Linked DNA regions of Homo sapiens. The main gene of each other region encodes a partner of the protein of the gene in region 2 in a complex. Each region holds a gene or a part of one and is shown on either strand. Other genes may lie near its edges. A codon is read from its position in the direction of its gene.

What was found.
Region 1: the proteins of EME2 (region 2) and MUS81 are in contact, whole or in part, in a crystal structure (PDB 7F6L), measured with the Homo sapiens proteins. Residues at the interface, in NP_001244299.1 of Homo sapiens: Glu140, Arg177, His179, Glu220, Glu221, Val224, Leu225, Gln227, Leu228, Trp229, Asn231, Leu232, Asp233, Leu235, Arg245, His246, Ala249, Val250, Lys252, Ala253, Leu254, Gln256, Tyr257, Lys260, Gln261, Glu264, Gln266 (codon at 3,830), Phe268 (codon at 3,824), Phe270 (codon at 3,818), Cys271 (codon at 3,815); in NP_079404.3 of Homo sapiens: His330, Glu351, Phe354, Lys357, Arg358, Arg363, Val365, Glu381, Leu385, Gln386, Thr389, Asn390, Gln392, Val393, Ile394, Phe398, Lys400, Arg401, Tyr411, Leu414, Leu415, Arg417, Gly418, Leu419, Arg421, Leu422, Pro447, Ile464, Lys467, Ala468.

What each region holds. Positions count from the first base shown.
Region 1 is NC_000011.10:65,858,198-65,862,094, forward strand, and holds the start of MUS81 (structure-specific endonuclease subunit MUS81), read left to right. Parts: upstream 1-2,235; 5' UTR 2,236-2,556; coding exon 2,557-2,691; intron 2,692-2,775; coding exon 2,776-2,905; intron 2,906-3,152; coding exon 3,153-3,238; intron 3,239-3,749; coding exon 3,750-3,848; intron 3,849-3,897. UniProt on the Homo sapiens protein: Catalytic subunit of two functionally distinct, structure-specific, heterodimeric DNA endonucleases MUS81-EME1 and MUS81-EME2 that are involved in the maintenance of genome stability.
Region 2 is NC_000016.10:1,775,746-1,779,642, reverse strand, and holds part of EME2 (structure-specific endonuclease subunit EME2), read right to left. Parts: intron 3,847-3,897; coding exon 3,657-3,846; intron 3,576-3,656; coding exon 3,405-3,575; 3' UTR 2,547-3,404; coding exon of another isoform or gene 2,200-2,546; 3' UTR 1,897-2,199; coding exon of another isoform or gene 1,771-1,896; 3' UTR 1,698-1,770; coding exon of another isoform or gene 1,595-1,697; 3' UTR 1,510-1,594; coding exon of another isoform or gene 1,031-1,509; 3' UTR 1-1,030. Other genes in the region: SPSB3 (SPRY domain-containing SOCS box protein 3), read left to right, coding at 1,031-1,208, 1,322-1,509, 1,595-1,697, 1,771-1,896, 2,200-2,546. UniProt on the Homo sapiens protein: Non-catalytic subunit of the structure-specific, heterodimeric DNA endonuclease MUS81-EME2 which is involved in the maintenance of genome stability. In the complex, EME2 is required for DNA cleavage, participating in DNA recognition and bending.

The DNA.
Region 1 (3,897 bases), on a different chromosome or scaffold from region 2:
CTTCCGTTTAGTAGGAGCCGCACAATGAGGGGTGGGGCGGGCTTCCGGCGCTCCCACCGCGAGCCGACGGGAAATGGAGTCCGCTGGCCCTGCGCCGCCGCCTCGCTCGCTGGGTAACGGAGTCTTCCCGCCGGCCGGCTCCGAGCTGCAGTGCATGTAGGGAAATGTAGGCCCAGGTCCTGGGCGGCACCGCAGCGCGCAGCGCGAGCCCATTGGTCCAATTTCCCAGGAACCGCTCTGAGCCCGGCGAGGCGGCGCTCAGTAAAATGACCCGAAAACGATCCCCGACTAAGCGGCTCTTTATCCCACAGCAAAACGGCTTTCTTAAGACCCATCTGGTATTATCTGGATCCCTTGGCCTGAAATTTTTGAGTGAGGTTAGGGTTTTGCATTTCTGAATCGAAGCAACTATTGATTAGCCTGGAATCCCGACCTAAAGCAAAGGAAATCACAAGTATGAAGGCGTCGTCAGTCGGATAAACACTAGTACTCTGCATGTGTAAAGCCACTCTCGTCTCCTGAAAAAAGGCCATGTCCAACGTCAGTAAAACAAGAATAGGAGGAAAAGGCACAGGGGAAAGGTACAAGGAAATCTCTGAGAGCTTTGTTCTTGTTTAAAGATGTTTGGCAAAGTCATGAGGCGTTAAAGGGTAAAGACGAGGGTTTGTGCATTCAATTCAAGGCTTCTTTACATGCCTTTACGTGCCAATGAGAAGAAATAGATATTAAACCAGACTTGAACCCAGCTCTCGAGTTGATAGCCAGGTACATGGTTATTCTAACATCCGCAAAACTGAGACAAGTTCTGTGGTAGTATATGCCTTAAAAAAAAAAAGAAACGAGCGGGGGACTCCGGGATGATTTTGTTGTTCTAGAACAGTGACCACAGCCTCACACTCTGCAGGAAAAGACTGGGTCGCAAACAAGTCAGAGGCAAACCCAGAAAGGGAACTGGGGGCCCTAATCCTATAAACGGAATTAAGGGTGTAAACGGAGAGCGATGCCTGGGAGTGGGGTACCTTGCAGAGCATACCGGGGGTTGTAGTCGGGGACATTCCACAGCACCGCCCCCGCCCGGACTCCCGGCGCTCCAGGTGGAGACAGCAGCTTGACCCCGCCTCCCGCGAGCGACCCTACATGAATATGAGGCTAGCGCCCCCTTTTCTGAGCCTTAGAGTTTCCAAGAGCAACGGGGAGAGAGAGGGGGGCTTCGCAGTTACCCTGGAGACGCGCTCTCGCCCGCCCCCAGCCGCGGGATGCCCTAGATGTCCTTATTAGGACAAGAGACTCGAGGGGGCGGGGCCAGCCCGACAGCCGGCTTGAGGCTCCTTATAAGGCCGCGGCGGGCGGGAGGCGGGAGCCGGAGCCCATTGGTCCAATTTAGCTTGGCTGGGGCTACTGCGCCGTGGGCTAGGCACAGTCCTGAGGGGCGGGACTGGAGCTCTGGCGCCCACCTCTCCCTTCCTCGCAGGCTGGAGACCTGCGTGTTGCGACTTCCGGCATAGCAGCTAGAGGCCGGGTGCTGCTTCAAACCCTGGCGGGTCGCCTGTGTCCAACTCAGCTATACGTGTCTTTCAGGCTTCTCAGGTTGAAGCCCTTTGTAGGGTTTCCATCTTCAACCTCCCTGAGGGTCTCCCACTTCCGATTAGCCACAAAAATGACGAAGTGTTCTCCCCTCTACCTGTGTCTGGGCTTCTTAACCCGCAGCCTGCTCCTCCGCTCCCAAACCCAACCGCGTGCCCATCTCAGGCCTCCCCAACTGCCAGGATGCCCAAGCACCTCTTACTTACAGTCCTCCTTCCTCTAGGCCTCTGACCCCCGACATTCCGAGTTCTATTTTGGGCCTTCTCGGCACGTCCCCGACTTCCTCTCCACCACACACTCTTTGCCCTGTATCCCGGGGATGAGGATCACCATTTCCTCCAAGGGTCCTGCAGCTCCTCCTGCCTTACCTTTGTGTCCTCATCCCCGGCACCCATTTCTGGGTGTCCCTCCCACCAATACGTTTGCACCCGTTTGTCTCCTAGCCCCCGCCTCTCCTGGACTCTTTTCAAGACCAGTCTCCATCTCCAGCCTCCTTCAAGCTTGAGGCTGAAGCTGACAATCTTAAGAGACCTTAGAGCCGCCAAGCTCAGGTTAGTCCGTTAAGCGCCGCCCAGCCAGTCCTCCCCGTCACAGGGGGCGCTGTCCGCCTTCCTCTCGCCTACACAAAGACCCCGCTCTCGAATCTGGGGTGACAGGAAGGAGCCGGTCCAGGCTCCGGGGGCTGGGAAAGGGCGCGTCTCAAAGGCTGGCTGGAGTGGAGCCAAGGGAAAAGATCGTTAGAGACAGCGCCCCTGACCAACCACTTAGAGCAGCGCAGGGGTGGGAGGGCGGCCGCAGGCTCTCCTCTCGTTAGTGCCCCCTGTGTTTGGGGCCCCGTGATCTCAACGGTCCTGCCCTCGGTCTCCCTCTTCCCCCGCCCCGCCCTGGGCCAGGTGTTCGAATCCCGACTCCAGAACTGGCGGCGTCCCAGTCCCGCGGGCGTGGAGCGCCGGAGGACCCGCCCTCGGGCTCATGGCGGCCCCGGTCCGCCTGGGCCGGAAGCGCCCGCTGCCTGCCTGTCCCAACCCGCTCTTCGTTCGCTGGCTGACCGAGTGGCGGGACGAGGCGACCCGCAGCAGGCGCCGCACGCGCTTCGTATTTCAGAAGGTGGGTCCTGGCGTGGCCCGATGGGAAAAGCTGCTGGCCAGGTCAGGCCTGCCCTGACCAGGTACCCTACCCCTGCCCGGCCAGGCGCTGCGTTCCCTCCGACGGTACCCACTGCCGCTGCGCAGCGGGAAGGAAGCTAAGATCCTACAGCACTTCGGAGACGGGCTCTGCCGGATGCTGGACGAGCGGCTGCAGCGGCACCGAACATCGGGCGGTGAGCGCCTCGGAAAGGGGTCGGTGATCCCCCACCTCCCCCAGGTGGAGCCTCCGTACTCTCCTGGGAGCCCTTGGCTTTTAAGCTCCCCACTCCTGTCCCAGTTGCCGTTCGGCCTAGGGCTAGTGGCTGGCGCTCCCTGAGCCTCCCTCACCGGTCTCACGTAACCATCTGAGTAGGTTGCATCCCAGATCCTCGCAGCTGCCGGATTCGTGGAGTGTGGAGTTAACTCTTTTCTCTCCCGCAGGTGACCATGCCCCGGACTCACCATCTGGAGAGAACAGTCCAGCCCCGCAGGGGCGACTTGCGGAAGTCCAGGACTCTTCCATGCCAGTGAGGAAGGGGCAAGGGGAGTGGAAGGCAAAGTGGGAGTGCGGGAGTATGATTTTCTGGCTTGGGGGATTTGGCAAGCCTGAGTCCAAATCTCACCAGTGATGCCTGGCCTTGAGCAAATGACTTATCCTCTTTTCGACTTAGTATTTTAACCTGTGAATAGAAATATTGGTAACAGCCAATGAGAGAATTCCATGATCAAGCTACTTAAGGATCCCAGCTCAGTTAGTTACGGGGTCACCATTATTGAGTTTTCCTGTCTAATTACACCTGTCCTGCAGCGCATGGTAGAAGTGAGGCCAGGCTGGGCAGACACCCCCACCCACTGCCCCGAAACTGCCTGCTGTTTTATCCCAGATTTGCAGCGGATCATCCCATCACCTGGCCCATTTTACAGAGAAGGAAACTGAGAGACAACTGAGTGACTTACCCAGGGCCACAAAGCCTGCTGGGGACTTATTCAAAGATGACTGGCTGGCTTTCATGTTCAGAACTCCTCTGTACCTTTCAGGTTCCTGCCCAGCCCAAAGCGGGAGGCTCTGGCAGCTACTGGCCAGCTCGGCACTCAGGAGCCCGAGTGATACTGCTGGTGCTCTACCGGGAGCACCTGGTGAGCACTGGGCTACACCGGGAGGCGGAACCATGGCAGTGGGGTGGGA
Region 2 (3,897 bases):
TCCTGACTCAGGGGGTCTACCCTGGCTCTGGGGACCCGCACTTCTAGGCAGTGGGGTAGAGTTGTCTGGGCCTGCCTTGTCTGTGGGGTGGGGCCATCCCCTCCAGAAAGGACAGTGTCCTGCCCTGAAGCTGGCTTTCGATAGGTCCACGTTCACCTGGAAGCTGGTGGCGCCCATGTCATGGTCCCCTGTGGCTTCTCCTGGGGATCACATCATCTCTCTGGACCAGCCCTCAACCCTCACTGTCACAAGGCCTCTGCCACAGGCCCCCCGCCACCACTTAGCACTCTCCCTGCTGACCCCCTGGTCCATTCAGCCCCTGGGTGGCCCCCACACAGTCTGTGACAGGGAGGAGGCTGGGAGGGGCACTGCCTCCCACAAGGAGCTCACGTTCTGGTGGGAGGAGGCCAAGAATCAGGACCAAGGAGAACTTCAGTGAAGCAAAAGAAGAAAAATGGAACAGGGGTGAAGGGGCTGGAGAAGCCTCAGGGAGGTGACAGCTGAAACCTGCACCAGGAGGGGCGGGGCCTGTAGTGGGCACTGGGCAGTAGGACCCTGTGGTGAGCCAGGTCTGCTCAGGTAACAGGAAGGTCGTTGGGCCACAGTGTGGTGGGGACTGCCCTGAGGCCGGGTGGCTGCAGCTGGGCCTGGTGTGGGGGTGGTGGCCTTGCCTGGGGGCCCCTGCAGGGCTGGCCTAGCAGGGAAGGTGTCCACACCATCTCAGCTCTGGGCAGGTGGGGTGGACCTGGGGCTTATCCACCGTCTAGAAACCACTTGGAGGCCAGGCAGCCTTGGCTACTGCTCTGTGGCTGGGCCTCCAGGGCCCTCCTGGTCATGCAGAATGGGGCAGAGCCGGAGCCCGTTGGGAGGGAGCCTGGGCTGTGCGCTCGGGGTACTGTGAAGTCCCTGGAGGCCTGGACCCCCATCCTTTCCTGGGTGGGTCAGGGACAGGGTGGGACAGGGACAGAGGGCAAGGGTGAGAGGGTAGAGAGCGGGCAACAGGTAGTAACAGCCGGCCCTTCTCTCCCAGCACAGCGACTCGGACTCCGACCCCGAGTACTCCACGCTGCCGCCATCCATCCCCAGTGCGGTGCCCGTGACCGGCGAGTCCTTCTGTGACTGTGCTGGGCAGAGCGAGGCCTCCTTCTGTAGCAGCCTGCACTCGGCCCACCGGGGCAGGGACTGCCGCTGCGGAGAGGAAGACGAGTGTGAGCGTGGGGCCCAGCCCCTGCTGGGACTGCACTGCGGGCGGGCCTGGGGGTGGGCAGGGCAGAGCCCCATGGAGCTCTCAGGGCTGCCCCAGCCTGGGCCTCTCTTGCAGATTTCGACTGGGTCTGGGATGACTTAAATAAGTCATCAGCCACCCTGCTGAGCTGTGACAACCGTAAGGTCAGCTTCCACATGGAGTACAGCTGCGGCACAGCGGCCATCCGGGGCACCAAGGAGCTGGGGGAGGGCCAGCACTTCTGGGAGATCAAGATGACCTCTCCCGTCTACGGCACCGACATGGTAAGTTGCTTCGGCCCAGGGTGCTTCTGGGGAACCTGGCTCCGGCAGCCCAGCCCCGCGCCCTCTGCCTGGCCCCTGTTCCTAGATGGTGGGCATCGGGACGTCGGATGTGGACCTGGACAAATACCGCCACACGTTCTGCAGCCTGCTGGGCAGGGATGAGGACAGCTGGGGCCTCTCCTACACGGGTGCGTGAGGCCCAGGGTGGGGCGGGGCCGAGCCTGGAGCTCCCGGGCTCACTGCGACCCTGGCTGCCCCCAGGCCTCCTCCACCACAAGGGCGACAAGACCAGCTTCTCATCGCGGTTCGGCCAGGGCTCCATCATTGGCGTGCACCTGGACACCTGGCACGGCACACTCACCTTTTTCAAGAACAGGAAGTGTATAGGTGAGGCCGTCACAGGACTTGAGCTCCTCTCAGCTGTCACCCCGAGGGAGGCAGCCACCCCGCCCCAGCCCAGGGGACACTGAGGTTTTCTGAAAGGGTTCCTCCCAGAAGCCTGAGGCCCCAGGGTCCCAGGGGGTGGGACAGTGAGGCCAGGCTGGAGTGGCAGGGCCAGCGCGTGCACCCTGCCTTGCCTCAGCTGTGCCAGCTGCCCACCCGGGTGACTGTAGCGTGAGGTCTGAGGGGCTGCGCCCAGTAGCTGGCCCCTTCCCTGCCTGGGGTTCAGGCTGGGCCCCTCCCTTCCAGGTGTGGCAGCCACCAAGCTGCAGAACAAGAGATTCTACCCGATGGTGTGCTCCACGGCGGCCCGGAGCAGCATGAAGGTCACCCGCTCCTGTGCCAGCGCCACTTCCCTCCAGTACCTGTGCTGCCACCGCCTGCGCCAGCTGCGGCCAGACTCGGGAGACACGCTGGAGGGTCTGCCGCTGCCGCCGGGCCTCAAGCAGGTGCTACACAACAAGCTGGGCTGGGTCCTGAGCATGAGTTGCAGCCGCCGCAAGGCTCCAGTGTCCGATCCCCAGGCAGCGACCTCCGCCCACCCCAGCAGTCGCGAGCCTCGGCCCTGCCAGAGGAAGCGCTGCCGCCGGACCTGACTGACTTCCCAGTGGAACTGCCTTCTTGGGCTGGGACAGCCCCTTTCCTCTGTCCCTTCTTTCTCTGTCCCTTCCTTCCAGCCACACTCCAGGGCGGAGTTGGATGAGGCCCGTCCGGAGGGAGCCATCTCTTGCTCCCGAGGCTGGGACAGTCCTTTCTGTGGGGGCTCTAGGGCCCCTCTGCTGCTGTGCTGGGTGGGGAAGCGGCTGCCCTGAGCCCCAGGTCTTGTGGGAGGCTGCGAGGACGAGAGCCTGGCTGGAGCCCGCGTTGCTGTTCCCACAGGGCCTCGGTTTTTCCTAACTTGCTCTGCATGCTGTCAGCGGCTGCCCCGCCGTCATAGACTTAAAGGACTGCAATAAATGTAGAGTTGATGTCTAACACCCACATGGCGTGAGCTGAAACGTATCCGTGCAGAGGCCGGGCTTGCGAGCAGCCTGGGCCTTCTCCCAGGCCTCACTGCCCCTCCACATCCTTGGGAGTCCCCTACTGCTTCTGGCTGAGGGTGCCACACCCCAAGCCTCCAGGTGGCAGTGGGGCCCTGGAGCTGCCTTCTGGTCCCTGCCGAGTGTGTGTGTGTGTTGGGGGGGCACAGCCCTGCTGCTGAGGCCTCCCCTGGGGCCTACGTGTTCAGGACTCAGCACAGGAACCGCCAGCCATCTGCCAGCCAGAAGCCCCTCTTCTCCCAGCTACCTAAAACTTCCCCTGCAACCACCCACCCTTCCCCTGAGGTCAGACCTGCTCAGCCAGAGAACCCACCCAGGCTGAGGGTCCACATGTGGCTGGGGGTCCTCCCCCACCGCCCAGGGTGTCTGGTCTGTCCCCAAGGCTGCATGCTGTCCTGGTGGTCCCACGTGTGGTCAGGAGCCCAGGTCCAGCAGGAGATCAGGGTTGGCTGTGGTCAGGAAGAGGCAGATGCGGCGGGAGAGGTCAGGCCCCACCCTGCGGGGACGCCCGCCTTCACTGGGCGGCACAGGAAGGTCGGCCAGGAGGCCCATGCGCTCCCGCTCCGTGCTGCAGGCCTCCAGCGCCTAGGAGCAGGCAAAGGCATGAGAGGGCGCCTGGGGACGGGGCTTCTGCACCTGGAGGGCTTGGAGGAGGCAGGGGCCCACCTGCTGCAGAAGGCGGGGGGAGGGGAAGGCTGTGACAACTGCATCAGCCACGGCTGGGCTGACCCGACTGAACTGCCTGATCTGCCTCCGCCAGGCCGCCTGCAGCCCTGCGCCGTCTCTTGCCACTGGCTCGCCGGCTGCCCAGCGCCCTGCTGTGCAGAAGGAGAAGGCCTGGGATTCCCGGTACTGCCTGGGGACAGAGAGAAGCCTTTTAGAACCTCATGTGAGCAGCTCCCAAAAG